2 separate regions of the Homo sapiens genome follow, and region 2 is linked to region 1. Evidence: fine-mapped expression QTL. A gene starts in region 1. The other region holds a variant in brackets. All regions are shown on one strand. Distances are between the middles of the regions.

Evidence for each region. PIP is the estimated chance that this variant, and not a neighbour inherited with it, causes the effect.
Region 2: its variant is the best candidate, but not a certain one, in a credible set for the expression of PELATON in subcutaneous fat (GTEx, PIP 0.58).

What each region holds. Positions count from the first base shown.
Region 1 is chr20:50,265,513-50,269,894 of GRCh38, forward strand. PELATON (plaque enriched lncRNA in atherosclerotic and inflammatory bowel macrophage regulation) reads left to right here and starts at 1,966. Exons shown (of 4, transcript NR_170992.1): 1 at 1,966-2,151.
Region 2 is chr20:50,128,467-50,132,848 of GRCh38, forward strand. PEDS1-UBE2V1 (PEDS1-UBE2V1 readthrough) reads right to left here. Exons shown (of 8, transcript NM_199203.3): 3 at 2,390-2,481; 4 at 1,080-1,224. It overlaps PEDS1 (plasmanylethanolamine desaturase 1), which reads right to left. Exons shown (of 6, transcript NM_199129.4): 3 at 2,390-2,481; 4 at 1,080-1,224. Among named protein-coding and RNA genes, the nearest start is that of UBE2V1, 18 kb to the left of the region's middle. The variant G/A (reference allele first, on the strand shown) is at 1,952.

The sequences.
Region 1 (4,382 bases):
AAGGAAGAGCTGGAGCAAAGGCCTGGAGGCTGGAGAGCGCTGTCGGGGGGCAAGTGGGGCAGTGTCCCACTGCGGGGTTTCATCTCAGCTCTGCCATGTCTTGGCTACGTGACCTCTGACACCCTACTGGGCCTCTTTGATCCCAGACTCACCTGTAGAATGGGTGTGTGAGAAGAAAACCTTCTGGAGCGGGGTGTTGAGGAGAGAACAGTGCCTGACACATCATAATAATAATGCTGAATAGATGTTATTTTCATTCCTAACCACTTCCTCCAGGAAGCCCATCCTGACCTCTAGCTCCCAAAGTCACCTGGACTTCCTCCATCACAGACCTTGCCACAGTGTGAGAAACTGCCTCATCCACACACCAGCTTCTCACCTCCACCCAGACCCTCTGATTGGGACTCCCCTGAAGACTGTGTCCCCAGAGCCCAGAAAGAGTCCAGCACAGAGCAGCTGAGGGGGCAGGTGCTGGTGAACAGTGTCAATGAGCCCCTGCTACTCACCAAGCCCTTCACACACGGGTCCTTCATTTAATGTCTTTCTTCTCCTAGATAGAACCTTGGCTTTGCCAAGACCGGTATAGTTGCTGCTCAAGAAATATGTGAGGAAATTGTTGAGATGAACCAGCACTCAGGGGAAGGGAGGCTTTCTGAGGCTGGGGCCTTAGCAGGTGGAGCTCCTGGGATAATAATAATAAGAAAGATGCCTGGACGCGGTGACTCACACCTGGAATCCCAGCAATTTGGGAGGCTAAGGCAGGCAGATCACTTCAGGCCAGGAGTTCAAGACCAGCCTGGTCAACATGGTGAAACCTGGTCTCTACTAAAAATACAAAAAATTAGCTGGGCCTGGTGGTGTGAGCCTATAGTCCTAGCTTCTCGGGAGGCTGAGGCTGGAGGGTCAATGATTGAACCTGGGAGGTGGAGCTTGTAGTGAGCCGAGATCGCGCCACTGCCACTGCACTCCAGGCTGGGCAACACAGTGAGACTCTGCCTCCAAAAAGAAAGACAACAATAATCATTAGTCTTTACTCTGCTCCAGGCACCAGGCTGAGTCTTCTCAGTTCATCTCCCCAGCAGATTAGTTCTATTATTGTTTCCATTTCACAGATGGGAAAATCAAGGCACAGGGAGGGGAGGTGGCTTACTCCAGGTCACACAGTTAGTGAGAGGCAGAGGCAGGATCAAAGCCAAGCCTGTTTGACTGAGGAGCCCGCCCCGAGACCTTAACCACACAACCCCTCCCTAGAAGGAAGGTGCCACTACTGGACACATTTTGGAGATGGAAACCAAGGCTAAGAGAGTCAGGATGGCCTGCCCATGTCTGGACACAGAAACTGAGGTTAAGCAGGAGATGCCCGAGGCGGGGTCCCTGTCTCCTAGGCCAGCACCCTGAAGAAGGGGTGGGAGACAACCCCCCACCCCCCAAGCTGTCCCCTGCTTGTTGGAGTTTCTGGTCAATACCCTGGCCTCTGTTACCCAGCCCAGCACCCAAGACGCTGCCTCTTCCGCCTGCCTGGAGTCTCGGGTGCCTTCACAATCGGATTCTCTGTCTCTGCAGCTGCTTTCCATTTGAGCCCTTTGTGCTGAAAATAAAAAAAATGAAAAGAAAACTTGGCACCACCCCTCTGCTTTGCTTCCTGGGGAGGAAGGAGGATCCCAGCTACTTCTTTCCCTCATTCTGGGGCCCAGAGATACCCACAGCCTGCCCGAGGTCACACAGCAGGGTTGGAGCCGGGACCCTGGCCTTAGACTCCCCTTCCAGTGCTCTACCCACTCTGGCCACTGCCTCTGATGTTCCTGGCTCTTCCTCTAGGCCCGTGAGGAGCAGAGAAATTAGGATGAATGTTCCCGAGCCCTACCACATGCTGGGCACTCTGCCATCCTGGGCTCACGAAACCCTCATGACAGCCCTGTGAGGTCCCGTCATCCCATTTAACCAACAAGGAAGCTGAGGCTCAGAGAGGGGAAGCGCCCAAGGTCACACAGCTGGGATGTGGCAGAGCTGGGGTTCCAGCTCCTGTTCCCATTGCTGGACAGCTGCCACATCTGGCACCCAATTTAGGACCCCGCGGGGAGGCCCAAGCCCCGGGGGTGGCGGGGGATCCTAGAGGAAAGTGGCAAGGCCAGGACCCTGGAGCAGAGCCAGGTAGGAACAATGGGTTCTCAGAGACCAAGGTGGCAGGGCGGGGCGGCTGCTGAGCAGGGGCGGCAGGGCGAGGTGGCGGGCGGGGCCCAGGAGACTTCATGCTCCCGCCTCCTACTCCAGCTCCCTGTTTGGGATCTGGGGACGCTCCAAGCACCTCAGCTTCTCAACCTGGACAGACCCACGGCTCCAGCAGGAGGCAGGGCCAGCCCTGTGTATAACCATAAATATAATGGGCAATAATCAGATTTCACGCTTACCGAGCCCTACTACAGGCCAGACACTGGGTCAAGGGTCCTTCCTGGGTCATCACAATCAGCCTAGGAGGTGCAATTAGGATTAGTGGCTTTTTACAGATGCGGAAACAGAGGTCCAGGGAGCTACTCAGCACCTGCTGTGCCAGGACAAAGAACTTTGGGAAGTGGGGCCCTCAGAGGGTGGGTACCCTGTTCCCAGAGGCAGGAAAGTTGAGGTGGACTGGACTCAGTGGGGCTCAGTGGGACACCGTGGGGAGTCAGTGCTCTCTGGGGGCGAGATGAATTAGAGGGAGCCCTTTTGGTTTTTTAGAATCTGAACATGGGGCGGGGGAAGCAGAGATGTGGGGAGCAGATGAAGCCTCCCTGGCACTGCTGGGAGGATTAAAGGACTTGATGGACACCCAGGGCTTGGAAATGTACCTGGTAGAGAGTAGGTGCTCAGGGAACAACTCCTGTTTGCAGAAACAGCAACTCACACTTAGGGAGCCTGCTGTGCATCTGAACCCCGTGCTTGGGTGTTTCTGACCCCCTTCCAGCTCTCATCCCTCCTCTCTCCATTTTCTCCCCTGTCTCAGGTTCATTCCTATGTTTCCTCTTGCCCCAATTAGGCCATCTTCTATGACTGCAACAGTAAAAATATTAATTAAATCTTATAACATGAAGTCTAACGTGGGGCCATTCCAGTGTTCCAGGGCAGGCTCCCTGCGCTCTAGGTAGGCATCTCTTCACTTCTCTTTCTTCATGGGCCCCAGTGCCTGCTGTGGCTCAAGACATCACGTCCCACATGATCACATCCTAACTAGGAAGAGATGAACAGAAAAGGGGACTTTCTCCTCCAGGATCTCACTTTTTTTTTTTTTTTTTTTTTTGAGACAGAGTCTTGCTCTGTTGCCCAGGCTGGAGTGCAATGGCACGATCTCGGCTTACTGCAACCTCCGCCTCCTGGGTTCAAGCGATTCTCCTACCTCAGCCTCCCACATAGCTGGGATTACAGGCGTGGGCCACCACTCCCAGCTAATTTTTTGTATTTTTAGTAGAGATGAATTTTCACCATGTTGGCCAGGCTGGTCTCAAACTCCTGACTTCAGGTGATCCACCCACCTCAGCCTCCCAAAAGTGCTAGGATTACAGGCGTGAGCCACCGTGCCCAGCCAACAATTTTTCTTACATGTCCCAGTGGATGTCCCCTGGTGTCTCATGGAATGATGGGCTCACATGTCCACATTTGAACCAGAAAGGAATTCCCGTGGCTGACTCAGGCCAATTAGGGTTCAGCCTGTCTGGCTGCTCCAAAGAGATGTGGGCTCCGAAGGTGATGGGGGCACGGCTGGGCTGGCCACCAGCTGGAGTCTCACTGACGGCCTAAGTGGCACAGTGGGCCTGGGTTTGCTCGGCCTTCTCTGGCTGGTCCTCTTGGCAGCGTCTGCCCCCTGGGTAACTGCCCCCTCCTTGAGCACAGTCTTCCCCAGCCTCTTGATGGCGGCTTGCTGGTCTCGCTGGTTCTCCTCTTACTTCCCTGCCCGTTCCTCCTTGGGCCTTGAAAACGACCCCTCTCCTGCCTTCATCTGACCCTTGCCCCGTGAGCTCAGCTGTGCGGGGTCCCTCGTGCCTTTATGCGGGCTCTGTCAGTCTGTCCATGGGTGTCCCAGGGGCGCACCCCACTGGGAGACATGGATGTCTTTCCCAGCTGAGAAGACAGCACTGCCACCCACCCAGTGGGCCAGGCCTCAGACCCCAGAGTTGTCCTTAACTCCTCTCTCTCTAACCCCAACATTCAATCCTCAGCAAATTCCATCGGCTCTGCCTGTGGACTGAATCCAGAACTCGACAAGTCTTCCCTCCTCTGTCTGGTCATTGCTCGCCTGCCTGGGCAGAATCTCCGCCCTGGACTCCCCACCCACCCCACACAGCCCTCCACACTCAGCCAGAGGGCTCCTGTTGGAACCCAAGTCAGGTCACACCATTGCCTCACTCCAA
Region 2 (4,382 bases), 140 kb before region 1:
TCTCTGCCGACATTTCTTGGCAGTATGGGCTGGATCGGTGACTCTGCCTCTAAGAAGCTTAATTTCCCCATCAGGAAAATGGGAATGATGCCTTCACCCAGGTTCCCTAGAAGCGGAGCCTGAAACAGGTTCTTGTGCATGTGATTTATCAAGGGAGCCTCTTCAGGAAAAAACCTCGAAGGGAGGGAGGGAAGCAAGACACGGCAGGGGAAGAGCAGAGCAAAGATGGGGTGGGTGGCGTCCTGTCTCAGTCTGTTCCTGCAAGGAGCTCTGAGGTGTTAACGGCTCTTTAGAATTAGACCCACTCAGAGGCAAAGGGACTAGCGTCGGAGGCGTTTCAGTCACTGGCTCCAGCCTTATCCCAAGGAGACAGGTGGGACCTCCCCTCCATCCCTGGAGAAGCTGGGAGCTGTCAGCAGCCACCACTCACAGAAGCAGGGGCTGGGTGCACCCCCAGGGAAGGGGATGGGCAGGGTGCCATAGCACCCACTACACTACACGTCCTCACCACCTCTACCCACCGGAGGCTGCCTGAAGAACAAATGGGTGTTAAGGTGCTGGAACAGGACCGGGCCCCAACCTACCTCCACCTGACAGATAAGGCAACTGAGGCTCAGAGTGGTGAAATCACTTACTTTGGGACCAGTCCCTCTAAAAATAGGCAGGCCCTGTTTTCACAGCCTAGACATTTTCCACTAGGCCACGGTAGCAAAACCCCAGAAGCCCTGCCAGGCAGGTAACACAAATGAACAAGGTGGGTTGGGTGCAGGGAAGCAAGGAATAGTGGGGACGGTGGTAAACTGGAAAGACGCGTCCTGTCAAAGGCAGTGGCTGCAGCTCAGCTCCCACCCAGTGAGGCCAGGTGGGAACATGGACCCAGGGGGGCCAGAGCAGATTGTGCAAGAGAAGCTGGAAACCTCCATCTTCATGTCAGGTTTCCTGATTTTACATGAAGACAATGAATGAAAACTCTTTTAAAATACCATAAGGAGCCAAACACATAAGCCCCAGAAGGCTCCTGGGGGTCGGCCTCTGCCCCCAAGGCCCCCTCCCAGCCCACCACTAGCTGGGTGTCTCACCAGGGCTGTGGGTGCGGAACTTGTAGGCCATGTTTAGCAGCGGCAGCAGTGTCACCAGGCAGTTGTCCCCGTTGGTCTCGATGAAGTCGTGCCGTGTGATAGCTGTCGGGTCAATGTGGTGCTCCCGGAAGGGTCGGATGAAAGCCTGGAGTTGAGGGGGACACAGCCCCAGCAGTCAGCCTAAGGTGGTCAGCTGCTCTCCACAGCCCCCTAAACACATTCACCCTGGGCTCACCTCCCGCCTTTGATCCTAAGTTTCCTCCACCCGGGATGCTTGAACATTCCCACCTGGCCCACTGCCAGACACAGACCCCATCCAGCCTTTGGGGAGATGAGCCGAAATGACCCTGGAAGGGCTTTGGGTTGGCACTGTCTGCCTCTGGGCCTCAGTCTCCCTACCTGTGCTGTAAGGGGGCTTGGAGACAACCTCCGCCCTTCCTCCCCACCCCAAGGCAGTTGAGGAGGTCCCTCTAAGTAAAAGGTGGGACCCTCTGGACCCCCTGCACCTGCTGGGGTAACAGCCTCCCCTCCTTAGTCCAGGCTCTTCTGACAAGGCTGACCTCGCCCCGGGCTGAGAAAGAACACGTGACCAGGCCTGGCCAATCATAGCATCTCCTCCCTCTAGCCAGTGACTGCCTGAGGGCCCAGCACGTGACCCAATCTGGGCCAATGGGAGTGAGCCGTGGGACTTCAGTTGGCGGAAACTACAGGGAAGGAGAAATGCTGTTCTCCTGGAAGGAGAAGGACAGTTCTCTTTTCTTGGGAGCTGGAAGGATGGATCTCTGGGCGGTGAGAAAGCACACTGGCCACCTTATGAGGGGAAAGTAGAGATAGAGATGGAAGAAGACTGGGCCTGAAGAATGTGGTCTGTC[G/A]GTCCTACTGGATGCAGCCATTCCTTAATTTGGCTCTAACCCTGAAATCTTCAGTTACATGAATCAGTACCCTTGTTTGCCTAAGCCAGTTTAGATTTTCTGTCAAAACCAAAAAAGTGACTAATACAGGATAAAATGCAGTTAAAACAGCAAGAAGCAGCAGGGGAGACAATGGAAAAGCAAGACACCCCCAAATTCAGGGGTTCTGATGAGGCAGGCACATATCTAAACTCTTGGACCATCCCAAGCCTGATGCTTTTGCTTCCAAAATCCCAAGGGACTCCTGTTCTAGTCTTGCAGCACAGGGGTGAGGGACAGGCTGCAATGATGGTTCCCATCTTTCAGATAGGGAAACAGTCTTAGAGAAGAAAGGGGACTCACTCAAGGCCATACAGCCCAACCTCCTTCTTGAGGACATGGTTAGGTCAACATACTCACCTTCCCCACAATGGGCAGCTCCACAGAGCCCCATGTGTCAGCACCCCAGTGTACCAGGCCAGACAAGAAGTCAGCAATGAGAGCCCCTGCAACTGTGGACAAGAGGGTGAGTGAAGGGACATCCCTGCACCCCCCCAATCAGAATCACTCATTCATTTACTCACTTGCCCGCTCATTCATTTGTTAGGAGGGGAAGGTGTCCCTTCTTCTCTAGTTGGGATGTTTTCTTCCCTGAAGATGGAGCCTCAGGCTTAACACTCCTCCTGCCTGTTACTTGCTGTGCTCGGGGAGATGCCAAGACTCATGTGCTTGGAGAGTCTGGAGAGCATAAACTGGGCATGCTCAGATCAGCTCAACCTTTCCCTATTAGGAGCAGGCTGTGCCCTTCTCTCTGCCCCATATAAGGAAAGCCTGCTCTGCACCAGTGCTGCCTGGAACTGCAGCAATGTCCTTCTGGGTTTGGTGTTAGAAAGAAAGTACCTCGGCCAGGTGCGGTGGCTCATGCTTTGTAATCCCAGCACTTTGGGAGGCTGAGGCAGGCGGATCACTTGAGGTCAGGAGTTCGAGAATAGCCTGACCAATATGGTGAAACCCCGTCTCTACTAAAATCACAAAAATTAGCCAGGTGTGGTGGCATGCGCCTGTAGTCTCAACTACTCGGGAAGCTGAGGCAGGAGAATCACTTGAACTCGGGAGGCGGAGGTTGCAGTGAGCTGAGATCACACCACTGCACTCCAGCGTGGGTGACAGAGTGAGACTCCGTCTCAAAAAAAAAAAAAGAAAGTACCTTACCTGCAGATAGAAGCCTCGCTGCTCCACCCCCACCCCTCCAGCTTTTATCAGCAATAAACATGATCATTTGGTCTCCAGCAGCCTTTTCCTTGTTTCTGTTCTCAATCTGTTCGGAACTTGAGCAGGGTTCCCTCAGACTCCAACACCATTCACTCACTTGAGGGTTCAGTAGATTTGGACTCAAATTCCAGTGCTGGCACTCACTAGCTGTGACGCTGCACATGTTATTTAGCCTCTCTGTGCCCAGTTTCCTCTTGTAAAATGGGAATGATGCGACTGGGCGCCGTGGCTCACACCTGTAATCCCAGCACTTTGGGAGGCCGAGGTGGGCGGATCACCTGAGGTCAGGAGTTCGAGACTAGCCTGGCCAACATGGTGAAACCCCATCTGTACTAAAAATACAAAAATTAGCCGGGTGTGGTGGCACACACCTATAATCCCAGCTACTCAGGAGGCTGAAGCAGGAGAATGGCTTGAGCCCGGGAGATGGTGGTTGCAGTGAGTCGAGATCATGCACTGCACTCCTGCCTGGCCAACAGAGTGAGACTCTGTCTTGAAAAAATAAATAAATAAAAGGGAATGATGCTAACATTTACGAGCACTTTCTCAATGCCAAGCACAAATGCTTTACAGGCTAGATCTTGATGAATTCTCACCATTTGTTTTAAGTTGGTAGCTTTTTTATTCCCACTTTATAGAGGTGGAAACTGAGGCTTCCACCCCTGCTGCCTCCCATCACTCTCCTCTTTCGCTGCAGCCCAGGCCTACTTTATCTCCTTTCCCTTGCATGCCTCTGGGTCTTTGCATTTGCTGTTCCCTCTGCCTGGAACATTCTTTCCTAAGATGCAACACAGCTCACTCCCTCACCTCTTCAGATGTTTACTCAAATGTCCTCCCTGGACACCTGATGGAAAATTGCAACCACCTCATCTTCCAGCATTTCCGATCTCCTATGTATATTGTTCTCCAAGCACTCGGCACCTCTGACTGCTCTTGTGCTGGTTTATTTTCTCCCCCAACAAGGAGGTTGGCTCCACCATGGCCAGGGCTTTAGTCTGGCTTGTGGCTGCATCCCAGCTCTTGGCACCTATTCAGAACTCAGTAGAGCACTACTAAGTGCAGTGTTTGGCACATAGTAAGCCCTCAGGCCATATTACTGTTGCTGTCATTGAGTCAATCAACTAAGCCACACTCCACAAAG